Regions from separate parts of the Homo sapiens genome. Here region 1 is linked to region 2. The links come from fine-mapping of genetic effects on gene expression. A gene starts in region 2. The other region holds a variant in brackets. All regions are shown on one strand. Distances are between the middles of the regions. Region 1 has its middle 38 kb from the start of LINC01503. Region 2 holds the start of LINC02975 (long intergenic non-protein coding RNA 2975).

Evidence for each region. PIP is the estimated chance that this variant, and not a neighbour inherited with it, causes the effect.
Region 1: its variant is fine-mapped to the expression of LINC02975 in spleen (GTEx, PIP above 0.99).

What each region holds. Positions count from the first base shown.
Region 1 is chr9:129,369,307-129,380,486 of GRCh38, reverse strand. It overlaps the pseudogene RN7SL159P. Among named protein-coding and RNA genes, the nearest start is that of LINC01503, 38 kb to the right of the region's middle. The variant G/A (reference allele first, on the strand shown) is at 3,520.
Region 2 is chr9:129,278,280-129,287,779 of GRCh38, reverse strand. LINC02975 (long intergenic non-protein coding RNA 2975) reads right to left here and starts at 5,364. Exons shown (of 3, transcript NR_121587.1): 1 at 5,088-5,364; 2 at 4,722-4,850; 3 at 2,061-2,270. RefSeq lists enhancers at 1-185, 1,127-2,100, 2,101-3,074, 8,932-9,500.

The DNA of each region.
Region 1 (11,180 bases), 92 kb before region 2:
CCTGGCCCAGGATTTTCTTTCTGTCCTTGGCGCTGTTTGCGTGATCTTGAGGGCCTCTTTGGAATCTCAGGGATGCCCTTCCACAGACGTATATAGCCCAGAGACTGATCAGTGGACCATCTTGGCATCCATGCCAATTGGCAGGAGTAGCCATGGTGTGACTGCACTGCACAGAAAAATAATAGTTCTTGGAGGCCTTTGTTATAATAGTTATCTCAGGGATTCCATTCTTGCTTTTGATCTGGATGAAAACAAATGGAAGAAAGATGAGTGCCCTCGGATGCCCTGCAAGCTGGATGCAACCTGCATTTTCTGGACCATGTACAGGGCAAAGTCAGATGCTGTAACTAATGATATCCTTCTCCCCGCCGCCCCCCGCCCCCGCCAAAAAAAGCAAAGTATTTGTTTGTGATAAAGTAGTTAATTAAAAAAAATAAAGAAAAAAATTAACTGGATGTGATGGCGCACAGCTGTGGTCCTAGCTACTTGGGAGGCTGAGGCAGGAGCATGGCTTGAGCCCAGGAGGTTGAGGTTGCAGTGAGCCGTGATCGTGTCACTGCTCTCAGCCTGCATGACAGAGTGAGACCCTGTCTCAAAAAATACAAGGCAGAAAGGTAGGCTGCAGGATGCAGGTCAGGGGGAGAGCAAAACGTGAGAGAAAGATATGTTAACTCCTTGCACACAGAGTGTGCACAGGTAAACATATACATGCACACGCTGGCATATAAAAATGCATGCACCTTGGCATGGACATGTGAACGCACACCTGCACACACAAGCAAGCACTGTATGCATGTGCGTGCACACACAAACACACACACATGGATTCACATGAATGCAACACACCACGTGTGTGCCTAGGGGTACACACATGCTGCACGTGCACGTGGACACCAACGCAGTACACGCACACTGAACCCCAAAGCAGGCCATCTGCACATTTCTTTCCTTAGCAATGATCATGGTTCATTCATTCATGCAATAAATGTATGTTGAGCCATTTTTGGTGCCAGGCCAGGCAACGGGCAATGCAGACTGAGCCAGGAGGGCCCCACAGTCCCAGCCCGATTGCCCCAGAGGAGCTCATAGACTAGACCGGGGGCAGGGAGGGGAGCAGACGGTAAGCAGGGAATTAAGCTCTCGTAGGGCATTTGTTCCTGTTGCCCTGGAACAGAAGCACAGAGAGCTCTGGGGCCTGAGAGCCATCTGTGGGGGCTGCCGGAATGAGCAGGAGTGAGGGGTCCAGGGTTTGGGCACATGACATGTCGGGAAGGGATCTGGCCAGGAAAGAAGAGGCTGGGGTGAGGCTCAGACAGGCCTAGCAAATGTAGAGTCTGGGTTTACTGACCCGATAGGCCCAGGAGCATTCCTTTTCCACCCCCTGCACCCACTGTGAGCTCCTGAGGGAGCCTCGGCTGCCCCCTCTCTGTCCCCACCCACTCATCTCCCAGTGCCCAGAACAGGTGAGTGCCTTTCAAATACGAGACTGCCTCTTGAATACAAGATTCTGTTCTGCAGTTGACACAAACAATGCCGTTTTGCCCTCTCCATCCACCTCTTCCCCGCCCCCACCACGAACACACGCAGCCCTCGGTTTCCCCATCTGGGCAATGGGTGTGTACCAGCCCCTCCTCACAGAGCTGTGAACTGAGTTAGTGGGAGACTGTGTTTCACAGAGGAGGTTGCACCGCTCCTTGCTCCTCTAGGCAAAGAGCAGCCCCTCGGAGGAAGCCCACGACACCCCCTCCCTGATGCAACCCTGGATGCTCACCCATCTCCCACCACACACGTGTATGTAACCCCCCGACTCCACACCTCACATAGACCCCCACCACACCTACCCTCCACCACTCCCCACGCCCCCCAACACACACACACACTCGCCGCCCTGGGCAGCCCAGCCAGTCTCGCCTTCCCCCGCTGAGCCCCCCTCAAATCCTGGACCCGGCAGTGACAAGCAGGCGCGGCCCGCGGCCACCCCCACCCCTGGCTGCAGGGCTGTGTTCATTGATCCGAAGATGCTCTTTCCTTTTCCTCAGGCGCTTCTCTGAAGGATGGAAAAATCGATGCCCGCAGAAGCACAGGTGCAGGGAAGGTACGGACAGTGCTGGGGAGAAGACCAAGGGCAGGGGAGAGCCAGACGCCGGGGTCCAGGCCGGCTGGGCTGCAGCGGGCTCTTTCTCACCTCCCAGAACCACCTCAGAGGCAGGCGTGGTCAGTCCAACCGCCAGCGCTGTTTTGTCTTTTAATATTTTGCCCTGACGACAAGAGCTGTATGTGCTCATTGTAGAAAATAAAAATCACTGAATCCATCCCCAGAGGTAACCTCCCTGCTAACGTGCACAGTAAATCCTTCCAGGCTTTTTTTCTCTGCACACTGAATGTGCTTTTTATTTTTGCAAAAATGGTACGTGCTCGACTGCTTTTTCCACCCAACACTATGCCACCGACATCCTTCTGTGTAAAGACCTGTCGTCAGCATCTTGGTATCTGAAGGCTGCACCATGATCTGTCTTGTTGGGTGGTAAAGGCATAGCACAAGGGTTAGGGTCAGAATCTTGGCCCCTTGCTATGTGACCTTGGACTGGTGGCTACACCCTCTGACCTCAGTGTGGTCCTCTTCTGGGAGATGGGGTTACTAAAGCCTGCGTTATAGCATTGTGGTGAGAATTACATAAGAAAACGGGCAGGAAGCACTCCTTTCATGTGGAGTCCGTCGAAAGCACACTATTGGCTGTGGCTATGATTATTTTTAATCTTTATCATTATACAGCTAAACAATTGTTTATTCAATCCATCCTATTATTGAACATATAGGTTGTTTACTCAACTTCCTTTAAAGAAGAAGGCTGCGGTGAATGTCCTTGCTAAGGGATCTTTGACAAATTCTCAATTATTAATCTTGAGAAATTTCTAGAAGGAAAGAGATGCACGTTTTAGGGCCTGTGCTACATTCTGCCAAATTACCCTCCAAAATGTCCCGATGACACTCTGTATTGGCTTCCTAGGGCTGTCAGACAAATGACCACGCACTCGATGGCTTAAAACAACAGAAATTCATTCTCTCACAGCTCTGGAGGCTCAAAGCCCAACATCGAGCTGTCATCAAGGCTGCATTCCCTCCCAAGATTAGAGGGAAGAATGCTTCTTTGCATTTTCCAGCTTTTCTCAGGGCTGGTATTCCTGACTGGTGGACTCATCACTCCAGTCTCCTCCTCTATCTGTCTGTCTGTCTTCTCCCCAAGTGTCTTATTCCAGGATAACCTCCTCATTTCAAGATCTTTAACTTGGCCAGGCAAGGTGGCTGACACCTGTAATCCCAGCACTTTGAGAGGCAGAGGTGGGAGGATTGCTAGAGCTCAGGAGTTTGAGAACAGCCTGGACAACACAGTGACACCCCCCATCTCTACAAAAAATAGAAAAATTAGCTGGACATAGTGGCACACACCTGCTTTCCCAGCTACTCAGGAGGCTGAAGTGGGAGGATTGCTTTGGTCCTGGAGTTTGAGGCTGCAGTGA[G/A]CTATGATTGTATCACTGCACTCCAGCCTGGATGACAGAGTGAGAACCTGACTCAAAAAAAAAAAAAAAAAATCCTGGCTGGGAGTGGTGGCTCACGCCTATAATCCCAGCACTTGGGGAGGCTGAGGCGGGTGGATCACCTGAGGTCAGGAGTTTGAGATCAGCCTAGCCAACATGGTGAAACTCCATCTCTACTAAAAGTACAAAAAATTAGCCGGATGTGGTGGCGCACGCCTATAGTCCCAGCTACTCAGGAGGCTGAGGCACGAGAATCATTTAAGCCCAGGAGGTGAAGGTTGCAGTGAGCCGAGATCGCGCCATTGCACTCCAGCCTGGGCAAAAAGAGCAAAACTCCATCTCAAAATAAATAAATAAATAAATAATTCTTACCTTAATTACATTGACAAAATGTACCTTTTTCCAAATAAGACAGCAGGCGCGGTGGCTCCTGCTTATAATCCCAGCACTTTGGGAGGCCAAGATGGGAGGATTGCTTGAGGTCAGGAGTTTGAGACCAAGGGAAGAGGGATTCTGTAGAACCCCTTTTCCTTCACCACACAGGATATTTTAATCTTTTTGAAATTTTTGGCCAATTTGATAGGGTAAAAGGATAACTTGTTTTAACATGTATTTCTTTTGTTGTTAGTGAAGATGAACCTACTCTCATATGCTTGTTGGCTTTTTTTATTTCTTATTTTGTGAATTACTAATTCATGTCCTTTGCATATGTCCCTATTAGGTATTCACTGTCTTCTAATGGATATGTGAGAGCTCTTTGTAGATGCAGGATATTGAGCCTTTATCATCTCTTGTAAATATCTTCTTAATTGGTCACTTACTTTTTAGGGCTTTTTTTCGTAGTTCTTCCATGTACATAACTTTCAAACTTTTTCGTAGCAAAGCTTCAGGAGGATTTTACCATCCGTTGAATAATTAAACAGGCCTTTCCCATCACATTCTTTTCATCTAGCACTTTTATAGTTCCACTTTTATATTTAAGTTTTCGTTTTGTCTGCAATTTATTTTAGTTATGGTGTATGTTAAGGCTAACAGCCTCCCTCCGCCCCCAGATATTGAACAGTTGTCTTAATACCATTTAATAAATAGCTCATCTTTTCCCTACTGATTTTAAATGATGTCTTTATCATCTATTAAATTTGACTAACCTAACCTAGCAGACTGAGCTAATGTTGACACTGCTCCTGCTGAGGAATATGGACAAAATTTAACAACAACAACAAAAAAAAATTGATCTTGAAAGAAAAAATGGGAGATCACCCAGTACTGGAGTTTGGGAGGAGGCAACTGGAGCAAGAAGCCATTCTGTAGCTGAGAACCCAACAAAAAGCAAGATCCTCGCTGAACAGGAGCTCACAGCTAAAAATGCAAACCGCAAAATGAACTGATCCTCAACAGGGAGTGTCAGCAGACAAAACAAGAAGAGGATTAGACCACCAAGAAATTGGGATAAGAGCACACTCCGAAAGAGACTACAAAAGAAGTGTGCTTTAAATTATTAAAAGAAAAAAAATAAGAAAATGAAAAGACACCATGAAAAAAGAGGCAGCCAGCCCTAGTGGCTCACGCCTATAATTCCAGCACTTTGGGAGGCCAAGGCAGGCGAATCATTTGAGGTCAGGAGTTCAAGACCAGCCTGGCCAACATGACGAAACCCTGTCTCTATGAAAAGTATAAAAATTAGCCAGGCATGGTGGTGAGCGCCTGTAGTCCCAGCGGCCACTCAGGGGTCTGAGTTGGGAGGATGGCTTGAGCCTGAGAGGCAGAGGTTGCAGTGACCCGAGATCACGCCACTGCACTCTAGCCTGGGTGATAGAGCCAGACCTTGTCTCAAAAATAGAAAACAAAAGAAAAGAAAACAACACAAACAAAAATAAGAGGCAAAGTTGAAGGAAAAACAAAGATCTTCTTGAAAGGAAAACCGTAGCCACTGAAAATAAATTTCAATGCCTTGGTTAAATAGCAGATAAGACGCAGCTGAAGAAGTGTTCATGAACTGAAAGACAGAACTGAGGAAATTACCCAGAATGTAGCCCACAAAGATAAAGAGGGCCAGATGGAGTGACTCATGCCTATAATACCAGCACTTTGGGAAGTCAAGGCAGGAGGATCACTTGAGACCAGGAATTTGAGACCAACCTGGGCAACATAGCAAGACTCCCTGTCTCTACAAAAAAATTTTAAAAATTAGCTGGGTGTGGTGGCACATGCCTTTAGTCCTAGCTACTGGGGAGGCTTGAGGCAGGAGGATTGCTTGAGCCCAGGAGTTCAAGGTTACAGTGAGCTGTGATCACACCACTGCACTCCCACCTGGGCAACAGAGTGAGATGCTGCCTCTAAAAAAATTTTTTTAAAGAAACAAAGATAAAGAGATAAATAATAAAAATAGAAACACATTGAAAAGAATAAAAGAGTCCAACATATGGCTTAGAGAAGACCTGGAAAGAGATAGATTATAAGGAGGATGGAAAAGAGATCATATTCAGCATGATAATGTCTGAGAATATTCCAGAATTGATGAAAGACACAATTCCTCAAATTTAAGAAGTGCATCAGGCTGGGCACGGTGGCTCACACCTGTAATCCCAATACTTTGGGAGGATGAGGTGGGAAGATAGCTTGAGCCCAAGAGTTTGAGACCAGTCCTGGCAACATAGTGAGACCTCGTCTCTACAAAAAATTAAAAAGTCAGCCAAGAGCAGTGGCGCAAAAAAAAAAAAAAATGCATCAACCACAAGAAGGATAAATAATAGTGAACCAAACCCAATTATCTATACCAAATATGTAATCCTAAAGACAAAGAAAATGACTTAAACCAGAAAAGAAGAAGAGATTATCTAACAGCATCCATAATAAAGACATATAATGGTGTTCTGAGTACATTGACTCTTTAAGTCCTCAAAACAACACTATTAGTGTTATTTTTATTTTATTTTATTTATTGAGACAGGGTCTCACTCTATCACCCAGGCTGGAGTGCAGTGGCATGATCACAGCTCACCACAGCCTTGACCACCCAGGTTCAGGTGATCCTTCCACCTCCTCCCAAGTAGCTGGGACCACTGGTGGCACGCACCACCAGGCCCGGCTAGTTTTTGTATTTTTTGTAGAGATAGGGTTTCGCCATGTTGGCCAGGCTGGTCTTGAACTCCTGACCTCAAGTGATCCACCTGCTTCAGCCTCCCATAGTGCTGGGATTACAGGCTTAAGCCACCGCACCCAGCCAACTATTAATGTTATTATCCACATTTTAAAGATGAAAAAATCAAGCGACAAAAAGCTTAAGTAATCTTTATTAGTTAATGCTACTTAATTTTTGTTACAATAATGACCCCTGAAGAATTTGGCCAGGCGTGGTAGCTCATACCTGTAATCCCAACGCTTTGTGCGGCCGAGGCAGGCAGACTGCTTGAGCTCAGGAGTTCGAGACCAGCCTAGGCAACATGATGAAACCCCATTTCTACAGAAAGTACAAAAATTAGCAGGGTGTGGTGACATACGCCTGTGGTCCCAGCTACTTGGGAGGCTGAAGTGGGAGGATTGCTTGAGCCCAGAAGGTCGAGGCTGTAGGGATCTGTATTGCACCACTACACTCTAGCCTGAGCCAACAGAATGAGATCCTGTCTGAAAAAGAAAAAAAAAAAATCGGCCAGGCGCAATGGCTCATGCCTGTAATCCCAGCATTTTGGGAGGCCGAGGTGGGCGGATCACAAGGTCAGGAGTTTGAGACCAGCTTGGCCAATTTGGTGAAACCCCATCTGTACTAAAAATACAAAAATTAGCTGGGCATGGTTGTGGGTGCCTGTAGTCCCAGCTACTTGGGAGGCTGAGGCAGGAGAATCACTTGAACCCGGGAGGCGGAGATTGCAGTGAGCCAAGGTCGCACCACTGCACTCCAGCCTAGGCGACAAAGCAAGATTCTGTCTCAAAAACAAAAACAAAACAAAACAAAAATCACACTTCCCTATGACTTTGCTACTCCTCCCCTTAAGAGGATACTCTTGCCACAGAGTGAGAAGCTGAGTCCTTTTCAACCCCTTTTGAATCTGGAATGGCCTTGAGATCTCACCAATGGAGGGTAGCAGAGATGATGTTATGCCTCTTTCAAAGCCAGGCCTTAAGAAGCTGCAAGACTTCTACCTTTGCTATCTTAGAACAAACAATTACACGACAAGAAGCCCAGTGTAGGCAGGGCACAGTGGCTCACACTTGTAATCCAAGCACTTTGGGAGGTCAAGGCAGGTGGATTGCTTGAGTCCAGGAGTTCAAGACCAGCCTGGGCAACGTGGCAAGACATCGTCTCTACTAAAAATAAAATAAAATAATCAGTCAAACCTGGTGGCATACACCTGTGGTCCCAGCTACTTGGGAGGCTGAGGCGGGAGAATCACTTGAGCCCTAGAGGCAAAGGTTGCAGTGAACTGTGATTGTGCCACCACACTCCAGCCTGGGCAACAGAGTGAGACCCTATCTCAAAAAATAAAAAATAAAAAGAAGCCTAGTGTAGATTCTGTTGGAAGGGAACCACCCATTAGATGGCCAACACCACCTGCCAGGCATAGCAGTGAGTTCATCTAGAACCCTCCACCCCAGGTGTTATGGGCTGAATTACATCATTTCCTGCCCCCCTGCCTTGCCACAAATTCACATGTTGAAGTCCTAACCCCACTACTTCAGAATGTGATTTTATTAGGATCGAGGGCCTTTTTTTTTTTTTTTTTTTTTTGAGACGGAGTCTCGCTCTGTCGCCCAGGCTGGAGTGCAGTGGCGTGATCTCGGCTCACTGCAACCTCTGCCTCCCAGGTTCAAGTGATTCTCCTGCCTCAGCCTCCCAAGTAGCTGGTATTACAGACGCGTGCCACCATGCCTGGCTATTTTTTTGTATTTTTGGTAGAGATGGAGTTTCACCGTATTAGCCAGGATGGTCTCAATCTCCTGACCTTGTGATCCACCCGCCTTGGTCTCCCGAAGTGCTGGGATTACAGGCGTGAGCCACCATGCCCGGCCGATAGAGGGCTTTTAAAGACATAATTAAGGTAAAACGAGGTCATATAGGTGGGCCCTAAGCTAATGTGACTAATATTAGGGCCAGGTGCAGTGGCTCACTCCTGTAATCCCAGCACTTTGGGAGACAGAGGCGGTTGAATCACGAGGACAAGGTCAGATCGAGACCATCCTGGCTAACACGGTGAAACCCCGTCTCTACTAAAAAATACAAAAAATTAGCTGGGCGTGGTGGCGGGTGCCTGTAGTCCCAGCTACTTGGGAGGCTGAGGCAGGAGAATGGTGTAAACCCGGGAGGCAGAGCTTGCAGTGAGCCGAGATGGCACCACTGCACTCCAGCCTGGGCAACAGAGCAAGACTCCATCTCAAAAAAAAAAAAAAAAAGAGAGATTAGCACACAGGCAAGCACTGTGTGCAGATGCTGAAAGAAAGGGGCATCTGTAAGCCAAGGAGAGAAGAAACCAACTGTGCCAATATCTTGACCTGGGACTTCTATCGTCTAGAATTGTGAGAAAATACCTTTCTGTTATTTATTTATTTATTTATTTATTTTATTTATATTGAGACAGAGTCTTGCTCTATCGCCCAGACTGCAGTGCAGTGGTACGATCACGGCTCATGGCAACCTCCACCTCCTGGGGCTCAAGTGATTCTCCCACCTCAGCCTCTTGAGTAGCTGGGACCACAGGTGCATGCCCCCACTCCTGGCTAGGTTTTATTTTGTATTTTTATAGAGACTGGGTTTCACCATGTTGCCCAGGCTGGTCTCAAACTCCTGGGCTCAAGCGGTCTTCTTGCCTCAGCCTCCCAAAGTGCTGGGATTACGGGTGTGAGCCACCGTGCCCAGCAGCTTTCTGTTTTTAACCCACCCAGCCTGTGGTATCTTGTTAAGGCAGCCCTAGCAAACGAATATATCATTCAAACCGCAGGTGAGAGCAGCCATGTGAAAGACCCCAGGCAAGACTAGCAGAAGAGCTGCCCAGCTGAGCCCAATCCAAATTGCAGAATTGTGACTGTAGATAACCAGGCACAAATTCACAAAATGATGAATGGCAGGGCCAGGACTTGGACCCAGGCAGCTCAGGAGTCCAGGACACATGCCTTCACCACTGGCACGAAGCCCACAAAGAAACAGCGAAGCCCATCAGCAATGACAGAGGACAAAAATGTAATTATCATCTCTTCAAGAGGACGAAGGAAAATATTTGTCAACCAAAACTGTCTTTCAGCTCAACTGTCTTTCAAGGGCAAGGGCAAAATAAAGACATTTCAGACAAAGACTGAGGAACTTTACCACTCACAGCTCTTTGCTGAAAGAGCTAGTAAAAGATGACCTAAGGAAGAAGGGAATCAAGCCCTGTACCAAGCACATTCTGCAAGAAGCAATGAATGGAGATATGGAAACATGGGTAAAATCTAAATAAGAGCTGGCCGTAAAATCAACAATCATAATTACCAGTGGTGGATTAAAACAAGGTGGAACTGCCGGGCACAGTAGCACATGCCTGTAGTCCCAGCTCCTCAGGAGGCGGAGCAGGAGGATCATTTGAGGCCAGGAGCTCTGGGCTGAAGTTGACTATGCCAGTTGGGTGCTGGTGCTAAGCTCTGCATCAATATGACGACCTGCCAGGAGGCCACCAGGTTACCCAAAGAGGGGTGAACTGGCCCAGGTTGGAAACAGAGCAGGTAAAAATTCCTGTGCTAATCAGTATTGGGGTGCAGCCTATGAATAGCTATTGCACTCCAGCCTGGGCAACATAGCAAGGCCCTGTTTCTAAAAAAATAAAAAATAAAGAAAAGGTGGAACTAAATATTAGGCAATCATAATATAGTGTTTGGAAGGTGTCACTGGAGTCAAATCACTCCAAGATCTTGTACTATCTAGCAGGAGGGTGAAAAATAGTGATTTTGATTATAAGTCAATTTTTTTTTTTTTAGACGGAGTTTTGCTCTGGTTGCCCAAGTTGGAGTGCAATGGTATGATCTCGACTCACTGCAACCTCCACCTCCCAGGCTCAAGCGATTCTTCTGCCTCAGGCTCCTGAGTAGCTGGGATTACAGGCATCCACCACCATGCCCGGCTAATTTTTTGTGTTTTTAGTAGAGATGGGGTTGCTCCATGTTTGTCAGGCTGGTCTTCAACTCCTGACCTCTGGCGATCTGCCTGCCTAGGCCTCCCAAAGTGCTGGGATTACAGGTGTGAGCCACTGTGCCCAGCTGAAGATTATTAAAAAATTTTATGCATGATAAAAACCTAAAGATAATCTCTAAAAGGCATAAAAGGAATGTGTAACTTTCAAACCAATAAAGGGAAAAGGTGAGAAATAAAGAAACACAATCAATCTGATAGCAAAAAAGAGGAGGGAGGGAGAGGGGAAAGCTGTGGGTGTTTTGTATGTTGATTTTACAACTGGCTACTTTGGTAGAATGCTTTCATTATTTAATAGTTTTTCATTTGCTTCCCTTGGATTTTCAAGTGGACAATTATAATATCCACAAGTAAGGATAATTTGTCTCCTTTTTAGTGGCTGTCCTTTAATTTGTGTTTCTTGTCTTATTGCATTGTCCAGAACTTTCACAGCAATATAGCATTATAGAGCATATATAAAGCATCCTTGCCACGTTCAAGACATTGCTAA
Region 2 (9,500 bases):
TTATTTATCCAGCGTGTGCTTCATGTCAGGTTCCCTGCTGAGGGCCAGGCACGCATACAGCAGTGGCCTAGACAGACAAGGTCCCCGCCCTCAGCAGCTCTCGGCCTAGCTATTGAGCTTGCCTGACAAGGGGCAAAGAGGGTAGGAGGAGGTGGAGTTGTCAGATTAAATTCAAGATGCTGAGTGTCATTTGAATTTGAGATAATAAAAAAAAATGTTTACTATGTGTATTCCATTCCATATTTGGGATACATTTATACTCACAAGTTATTTGGTACTTATCTGACATTCATATTTAACTGAGTGTGCTTTATTTTATTTTATTTTATTTTATTTTATTTTATTTTATTTTATTTTATTTTATTTTATTATTTTTGGGATACAGTCTCACTCTTTCGCCCAGGCTAGAGTGCGGTGGCGCGATCTCAGCTCACTACAACCTCTGCCTCCCGGGTTCAAGCGATTCTCCTGCCTCAGCCTCCTGAGTAGCTGGGATTACAGGCACATGCCACCATGCCTGGCTAATTTTTGTATTTTTAGTAGAGATGGGGTTTCGCCATGTTGGCCAGGTTAGTCTCGAACTCCTGACCTCAGGGGATCCGCCCACCTCGGCCTCCCAAAGTGTTGGGATTACAGGCCTGAGCCACCGCGCCCAGTCTTTCTTTTATTTTTATTTCTAGATCTTCCAGTGTTTATCCAGCACCTTCTGCAGGAGTCCTTCTACTGAACCACCAGACCCTGTGGGCTCAGGGACAAACACAGGAACAAGCCCACAGGATAATCACACAGGGTGGTCCTGGGAGGGCCTTTGACAAGGTGACTTTGAGCTCAGACCTGATGTGTGTAGAGGAAGAAAAAAGGCATCACTCCATGAGAGAGAAGGAGAGGGATAGGAGACCCGGGTGAGGCAAGGCAGAGAGCTAGTGGCTGCAAAAGAGACAACACTGACCAGGAGGGGAGGGAATGGAGGGCTTTGTGGAGGAGGTAGAATTGAGCCAGGCCCTGAAGGAGGAGCTGGACAGAGAGGAGGTGGTGCAGAGGAACCCTGATTTGGGAGGAGGTAAGCCAGGTGGTAGGCCCCTGAGATACCCATTCTCCAGACACCATCTCTTACAAGGGCCTTTGGTACCCGAGAAAATGCACATGATAAACTGTCAAGCGAAAAATACAAGATACGAAACAGACAGCAGCTGTGGCGTTGCGAGGGGTTGAACTAGACCATCCGACCTAGCATGTAGTAGGCGCTCAATAAACAGGAGATCGATGGAATCATGCTTTTCCGATTTGCAGACAAATGGGGGGATCAGAGGCACCGCCAAGGTGTTCTTCCTTGTTTTGTGGGTATTTTACTAAATGAAACAATGAACGAATTGCTTGAATAGACGTGAGGTTACCGTGACTCCATCCAGAAACCACTTGGTCCAGACTTTGAAGGCAATAAAACAGCAGGAAAAGACAGGCCCTGCCTCCCGGTCCCTGACAGGCGCCGTCACTCTTGAGCCTGTGGTAGGGAGTGCATTTTCAAGTCGCCCGCTGCCTCCCGAGCCTGCCTGCCGGGTCTGCAAGCCTCCAGCCAAGCAGGAGGGATCAGCTCTGCAGCTTCCGACACCCCAGCCCATGTCCTCTCAGCCCACTGGGCCCAAGGCGGGTGTAAAATCCTGGCTCACCAAGCAGAGACTCTGGGAAGAGGCCCAGTGGCCTCCCAGACAGACCAGAGGTCCTGCTCACTGGTGTCCTCCTGTGCGTCCTTGGCAAGTGGCTTCCCCTCTCTGAGCCTTGGTATCCTTGTCTATAAAATGGGGATGGGCATGGGCGTGGTGGCTCACGCCTGTAATCCCAACACTTTGGGAGGCCGAGGCAGGCGGATCACCTGAGGTCAGGAGTTCAAGACCAGTCTGGCCAACGTGGTGAAACCCCGTCTGTACTAAACACACACAAAAATTAGCCAGGCGTGGTGATGGGTGCCTGTAATCCCAGCTACTCAGGAGGTTGAGGCAGGAGAATCACTTGAACCGGGGAGGCGGAGGTTGTAGTGAGCTGAGATTGTGCCACCGCACTCCAGCCTGGGCAACAACAGAGCGAGACTCTGTCTCAAAAAATAAAAATAAAAAATAAAACAGGGATGGATTCTAGTGACGTCATCCTTCATTCATTCACAAAGGTTTGGAGAGAATCTGTTCCCTGCTGGGTGCCACGCTGGGAGTGTGAGGCTCCAGAGGGAAGTTCTTGGACCCCTGGCTGATGCTTTCACATGATCACAGGGGCACATTCTGTAAGATAAATACACAGGGGGTTGTGGCGAGCCCTCAGTGCCTGGAAAGGAAGAGAAAATACAAGGCCTCTTGCATTACTACCTGTGAGCAGAGGGTACCTGGCTCCCAGGTCCCTCCTGATGAAAAGGACCCCAACCTAGACAGACGTCTGTCATGCTTAGAAGGCCCTTCTCAGTCCCTCCAGCTTCTAAGACATTTTATTACTAATAATCACATGCAGGTGATGTTTAACGAGCACTCGCCATGCGTCAGCCTCTGCGCTTCAAGGGGTCCACGTGCACAGACCGTGGCTGGCCCTGCAACTCCAGGTGCAGCAGACACAGCCTCTCTCAGCCCAGCCAGAACCAGGTGCTGGCGACTCCTGGGACCTCTTCCAAGGGGAGGTGGGTTTGGGACACAGGCTGGAGACCAGAGCGGGCCAGGCCCCTTCCCACCATGTCCCCACCCCATAAGACCACCAGTGCCCCTCAGGATACCCAGCCCTGTCCCTTCCCTTTACAGAAAGAGAAGGTGAGTCCCCTAAAGGAGACTCGTGCTCCAGTGCTCTTCCTGAACTCCTCCGGCCACCCTCAGGCCACCCCCTGCCCTCAGACCACCCCCTTCCCTCTTCTCTGCAGTTACCCATCCTGATGCCCACCTGCCAAGCCCAGCAAAGGCCCTCCACAGTCAGCCCAAGATGCTGCCAGACCCAGGACCCGGGGCAGGTGTGCACGGAGCAGGTGTGGATGTGGAGGAAGAGGTGCCCAAAGCTCTGCTCTGAGGCCAGACCTGAGACCTGGGTGCCCAGAGCCTCTCTAGGTCCACCCAGGGGTGCTGGGCCCATGGGAGCAAAGGCTGAGTACTGCGGCCTCCCACCACCCCCCTGCCCCACCTCCACCCTGAAGTGTCCTGTTTAGCGGAATATCAGGTGTCATTGTGTGCCCTGGGGTGCTGACGGGGAGGGGATCACCTGGCCACAGGAGACCCCTGAAGCCTGGGGGAGGGGTCTGCTTCAGCTCCAGTGAGGGCGGGATTCCTGGGGTGAACTCGTGACCTTAAGCATGACCTTGAGCATGACCTTAAGCATGACCTTGAGCGTGACTTTGAGTTGTTGCTCCTTTCAACGCCACACGCACGCCTGATTCCTGGGCCCTTTTCTCTCCCCCAGTCCCTTCCTGCCACACACACTCCTATTTCTCCACATCTTTCCCCTCTAAATGACGGGGTAACCAGAAGTGACACCACAGCCGCTGGACCCCTCACGGCGCGAACATGAAACTGGGCAGGTCTGGGTTTGGCCACCCGTTCCCTGACTTGCTGGCTGTGTGGCCTTATGCAGGTCACTTGCCCTCTCTGAGCCTCAGCTTTCTCGCCTGTAAAGTGAGGGGCACGTGAGCTCCCGCCTTGCAGGGCTGTGTGTGTTGCGGGTGGTCTTGGAAGCCGCACTCAGTGTGGACAGGCAGCAGTGCTCCCATGCAGGTGCCACGTCAATATCATCACGTGGTTCCTGTTTAGGTCCTGCTCATTCCTCCAAGGGCCGAGGCAGCTCCGGGGGAATGGGGAGGGCGTGGCCTCTGCCCTGGTCCTAGCCGGGTCTGCGGCTGCTGGTGTCCACCTGTGGTTCTCAAAGGGTGGTCCTCCTGGCCAGCAGCATTGGCCTTGCCCAGGAACTTGTCAGAAATTCAGATTCTCTGGCCTGGCCAGTCCTGGGAATCAGAACCCCTGGGATGCAACCAGCCACCTGTGCTTTCACGAGGCCCCAGGGGCCTCTCGCAGGCACTGGTGTGAACCAGGAGATCCTGGAGGGTGGCGGCCCATCTTGTGCCCCCTACCCTCACTCCCATCACAGGGTCTGGTCCTCCCATTTCTCCAGTCACTCTGCACTAAACGCTGGACAATGGCCCCTAAGTACAGGCCCTCGTCTGCTAGTTAACAACTGGGGGGCCCAGGTTCTCCAAATGTGGTCCCCAGAGTACCCACACCAGACCACGAGGGAGCCTGACAAAATGCAAGCCCCTGAGTGCCCCCTAGACCGGCTGGGCATGGCTCCCCAAGAATTTGCTCTGGGGACACCCACAAGTCCCAGAACAGGGGGAGGAAAATGAAGGGCACAGGAAAAGCCGGGCCCTGGGGAGGAGATGGAGGAAAAGGGAAGTCAGACAAGATTCCCCAGTGCCAGTGACGGGCACCACTGCCTCCCCAGAGCCACCACAAGCCAGCCGCCCCTTGGCAGCAGGGGTCTGGGAGCCCTTGGCAGTTCAACCCTGTACGGACACCGTTTGAGGGGCTAGAAATAAGCCAGGATGAAATGTTATGAAATAATAATAATAGTCCCTTCTCTGGCCCACTGCAGAACCCTAGAAAGTAAGGGACTGGGGCCAACGGCAGCTGCAGTCAAGGTGCCTGCAGCTATGTGACCCCAGGGCCTAGCCCGCCCCTGCCTCCCGCCCTTCACTTAATTCCAAATACCTTTTCTCTTGTCAGCCGCAAGTCAGTGGGCTTCAAAGTCAGGCGGTGGCTCCCGTGACCCTTTGTGGGGAGGGCAGGGGTGGGCCCAGCTTCTGTGTGTTCTGCTCAGTGGGCCAGGAGGCCCCAGGCCTGCAACGAGAGGGAGGGAGGGAGCTCGGCCTGCCGGTCATTGCTCCGCACCTAGGCCCTTGCAGCTTGGAACGGACCAGCAGCCGGGAACAGCTGGTCCGATCCCACCGCCCTGCTAGGGAGGCTGCCCAAGGTACCCGGAGAGCCTTGGACTGGGGAGCTCAGGGCTGGATGAGCCAGAGCTCCAGGAGAGGAAGGCTGCGCTCACCTGAACTAAAAGTCGTGTTACAATCATACCTGCAGGTGTCAACCTCACTTTCGTTGCAGAGAGGAGGGTCTGGAATCACATGCTCCTCCAGGCAGCATTTTACAGAAAGCTGCCCTGACAGCCACGACGTACTCCCCCACTTCTACCTCTATCTCGGATTCTGTTGCAGAATGTGGCGAGGTATCACAGGGCTGCCAGCCACGGACAGGTTTGAGGGGACCGGAGTAGGGGGTTGCAGGGACGAGCTGGCAGGATCCAAATCCCTCCCGTCAGATGTGTCTCCACCCACAGCTTCCTTTTCCATTGGAGCAAACATAACAAAACAAGTGTCAACTACACTTCCTGATTCCTGAGTTACGAAAAGCCAGTGCCACCCACAGGTCCGTCCACCCCCTCCTCTTGACCCGGCCCTTCCAGTGGCACCTTATTCTGTTATTTGCTCTCTATTTTTCTTTAAAAGCATTCACTGCTATTACTTAGGTAAATGCATCCATAAGGGAACTTTATGTGACTACTGTTAGGTGGAAAAAAAACTAAGATCATGGGCCATAAATAGAAGGTAAAAGTAAAAATAAATTACAATTAAAATAAGCAATGTTAGGAAATTCTAGCTGGCTATTGTTGCCTGCCGATGGCATTTTGATAGAAAAGCGTTGGGGAGTTGCAAGCTTCCCCTCCAGGGGACCAGAGGGCTGAGACAGAGAAGGGAATCACCTTTGTGTGGTATGAGGCTGTGTGATCCCTGACGTCACTGTCTCCTAGGTCACCGAGGGTGCCCACCCCACACTGGGGAAACACTGACCTGAGGGGCACCCCTAAGCCAGTGAACCAGGGGACAGGGCTCCTTGCGAGGCAAGGACCAGATGGCATTTAACGCTGATAGGCACTATCATGACCTCCTGGGCATGAAACAGGTACCTCCCTGGTCCTTTTTCCAGAAGAGGTTGCAGAAGCCCTCTGGACAGGCCTGGCTCATGTCCTCCTGCTGGAGCGGGCTGACATAGCCCTCAGCCCTCCACTCCCAGCGTGGCCCGTCCGCTCTCCACAGATGTGCCACGCTTTCTCTAGGGTCCCCGCCCTGGGATTCCCTCCCGACCTGGCACATCTCAGTCAACCCCACCTGCCTTCCAGGTCCCCTCCGCCAGCCCTCGGCGGCCTCTCTGGGGCAGGACAGCATCCTCCTGAGGACCATGATGTCTGTAGTACTGTTCTGCCATCCGGAACTTCTCGTAAGTGGGACCCCACTGACCACCCTCTCGATTTCTAAGTGAAGCCAGAGAGTTGGATCACAATTATCCCCTGTGCCAATAATTTCCTTTATGAGAAATGCAGTTGTAAGTCTTAGAAAGGGACATGTGAATTAAAACAGGCAGTCACGCAGAACAAGGGGGAGGGAACGCATGAGGGTGCCAGGAGGTCCCCAAATTGTCCTCCAGGTGGAGACCAGCTGGGATGGCGGTGACGTCTCACCTGCACCAGGACTGGCAGCTCTGTCACATCCCCACAACACAGGGCCCTGGCAGGCCTCACTCTGCACTGGCTGGCTGTATCTGGGGCACAGACACACGGGCTGGTGGCGTATGTCACAGGTGGCAAATGTGTCACTTGGCCTCAAGACTCCCTGCATGCAGTGGAGACAGTGAGGCCTCTGTCCACACAGGCCCCAGCTGGGCCATGACCCGCTCTTGAGGCCCATCCCTTACCCTGACCTCACAGCTTCCCTGGTTGCCTTCCAGGGTCAGCAGAGCAGCCTGGATGCACTCAGAAGCCCCGGGGGACTCAGGCCACTCTCCCTGAGACCCAAGAGCATCCCCCTGCAGCTTGTGATGAGCCCTGGGTAGGGAAAAGGTGACACAAGGGGGCTCATAGCCACCACCAGGTCCAGCTGGGCCAGGGCACTCATCCCAGTCTATGGGGAGAGTCCACCTTGGCTCCAGCTGGCAGGATGAATTAGGAAATGAGAGCCAGCCCTTTGCAGCCTAGAGCAGTGGCTCAGGCAGGGCCTGGCCAGGGGCTGTGGGCAGGAGTGTCTGAGGCTGGAGGAGCAGCCCCCAGGCATCCCATCGCACTCCCTCAGGGCATCCGAGGAATCCCACCTTGACTCCTCTCGGTCTTAGCTCCAAAGCCACGTCCAAGCAGGTGAAACAGGAAGCCCCCTCCCCAAGGGGCTTTCTAGGGCAGAATGCCTGAAAGATCAGGGCAATCACCACAAACACAGATGGAAATCGGAAAGCCGGCTCCTAAAACATCTCAGGGCTCCACGCTAACACGGAGACAGGAGAGGACCACGGGTGGGGCAGGGGTTTTAATGCTGCCCAGATCTGGGTGCAAGTCTCAGTGCCACCCCGTGCCAGCCATGTGGCTTTCAGCAAGTGACTTCCCTTCTGTGAGCCTGTTTCTGCATCTGCCAAATAGGCCTGATGATAGCACTGACCAAGCACAGGCTTTCTGTGAATTTTCATACATTTGTATGGAGGGTGCACAATACCTGGGATGTATAGATGAAATTTGTATAGGTGGTCGCAGTTATTACTATTATTATTATTATTTACAGACAGGATCTTGCTCTGTCACCCAAGCTGGAGGGCAGTGGCACCATCACAGCTCACTGCAGCCTCAACCTCCTGGGTTCAAGTGATCCTCCCATCTCAGCCTCCCAAAGTGTCGGGATTACAGGCATGAGCCACCGTGCCCAGTTTGCAATGATCATTACTGAATATCACGTACATACGTGTATTGGCAGGTGTTAAACGTGTAAGATACTTTTAAGTAAAGAAACTTAAAACAGACTATTTCTATGAGTTAGTTTAATTTAGTCTATAGATGAGAAGATATATACACAGTTCTGTTTCATTTCAGCTCCTGGAACAAGGGCCTGTCTGCCCACTCTTATAAGACAGATGTATCTCTCCATCCTGGCACCGCCCAGCCACCACCCCCTCCCAGGCCATGGGCCCTGCTGCATCCCCCCGTGGCCCTAACCAGGGACCTTTCTTCTTTGTTTTCTTTTCTTTTATTTATTTATTTTTTAACACAGAGTCTCCCTTTGTCGCCCAGGCTGGAGTGCAGTGGCACGATCTCGGCTCACTGCAACCTCTGCCTCCCGGGTTCAAGTGATTCTCCTGCCTCAGCCTCCTGAGTAGCTGGGATTACAGGCGCCCGCCATCACACCCGGCTAATTTTTGTATTTTTAGTAGAGACGGGGTTTCACTATGTTGGCCAGGCTGGTCTGGAACTCCTGACCTCAGGTGATCCACCCACCTTGGCCTCCCAAAGTGCTGGGATTACAGGCATGAGCCACCGCGCCCGGCCTGTTTTCTCATTTGTGAAGATGCAGGGCTGCTGTGAGGACTGGGTGAGAGGCGCACCTGGCACGTAGCAGGTTCTCACTGGGCGAGTTGCCCCCAAGCCCCAGCGACAAGCCCAGCCAAGGCCCCCGCTCCCCGCCTGGGGAGGTCAAAGGGGCAGGTGGGAAATTGAAACCCGAGATGAATGGCCATTCTGCAGCTGGAGTCCAGAAAGATTCTGGGCATGGGAGCATCACTGGAAAAGGAAATGTGGGGCCCTTGCCCAGGGGAGGGACCGGGGGGGGGGTTCTAGATCCAGCTCTGCCCCCACCCAGGTCACCTCGCTGGCTACAAATGACGACCCCAAGTGGTGCAATGTAGATGTCCAAAGTGAGAAGCAAGGCTTGTGCAAGGCTGTGTGGGGGTTACCTGGGGGTTTGATCTCGGTACCATGAGTGACTCCCAGAATGAGACAATGTCTGCCCCTTCTGCAGGGCAGATGTGAGGAGCCTGAGGGACCTGCTCCCAGGCCACCAGCTCTTTGTGCAAATCTTGGTTTTCTGGTGCTTGGTTGGCTGGAAGAAGAGTGTGGCTGGATTGGGGGCGTGGTCTCTGCTCCCTCAGCCCCACCCACCAGGTGGGGGAAATGGAGGAGAGGGACCCACAGGAGGGTGGTCAGGGCAGCTAGAAGAGATTTGCTCAGGTACCACAGACCCTTGGTCCCTGGAGCACCCCTCTCTGCTAGGAGAGTTGGCAACCAGAACCAACAGTTTTCAAGGCTGCACACCTGGTGGAGGTTGTTGCGGGGGTTGGCCAGGTGCAGGCCCAGGCAGGCAGGGAAGCGCGGAGGCTGGGCTGGGCTGGGTTCCAAGGCAGGGCGGAGCCTCCCAGGGAAGCCGCAGTCACCCATCCGTCACTTATTCATCCATCAAATATGTACCGATGCATGGCCTGGGTGCCGAGACACCCACGACCAGACAGACACAGCCCTGCCTTCCTGGGGCCTGTGATGGGGTCAGCCACGTAGGTCAGTCAGGCCTGGTGGGCAGCAGCTAGGACTTTGCATCTTCCTCTCCGCAAGCCCCTGGGGGGTTCTGAGCCGGCAAGAGATGGGATTTGACTTGCATTTTAAAAGGGTCTTTTAGCTTCTGTGTG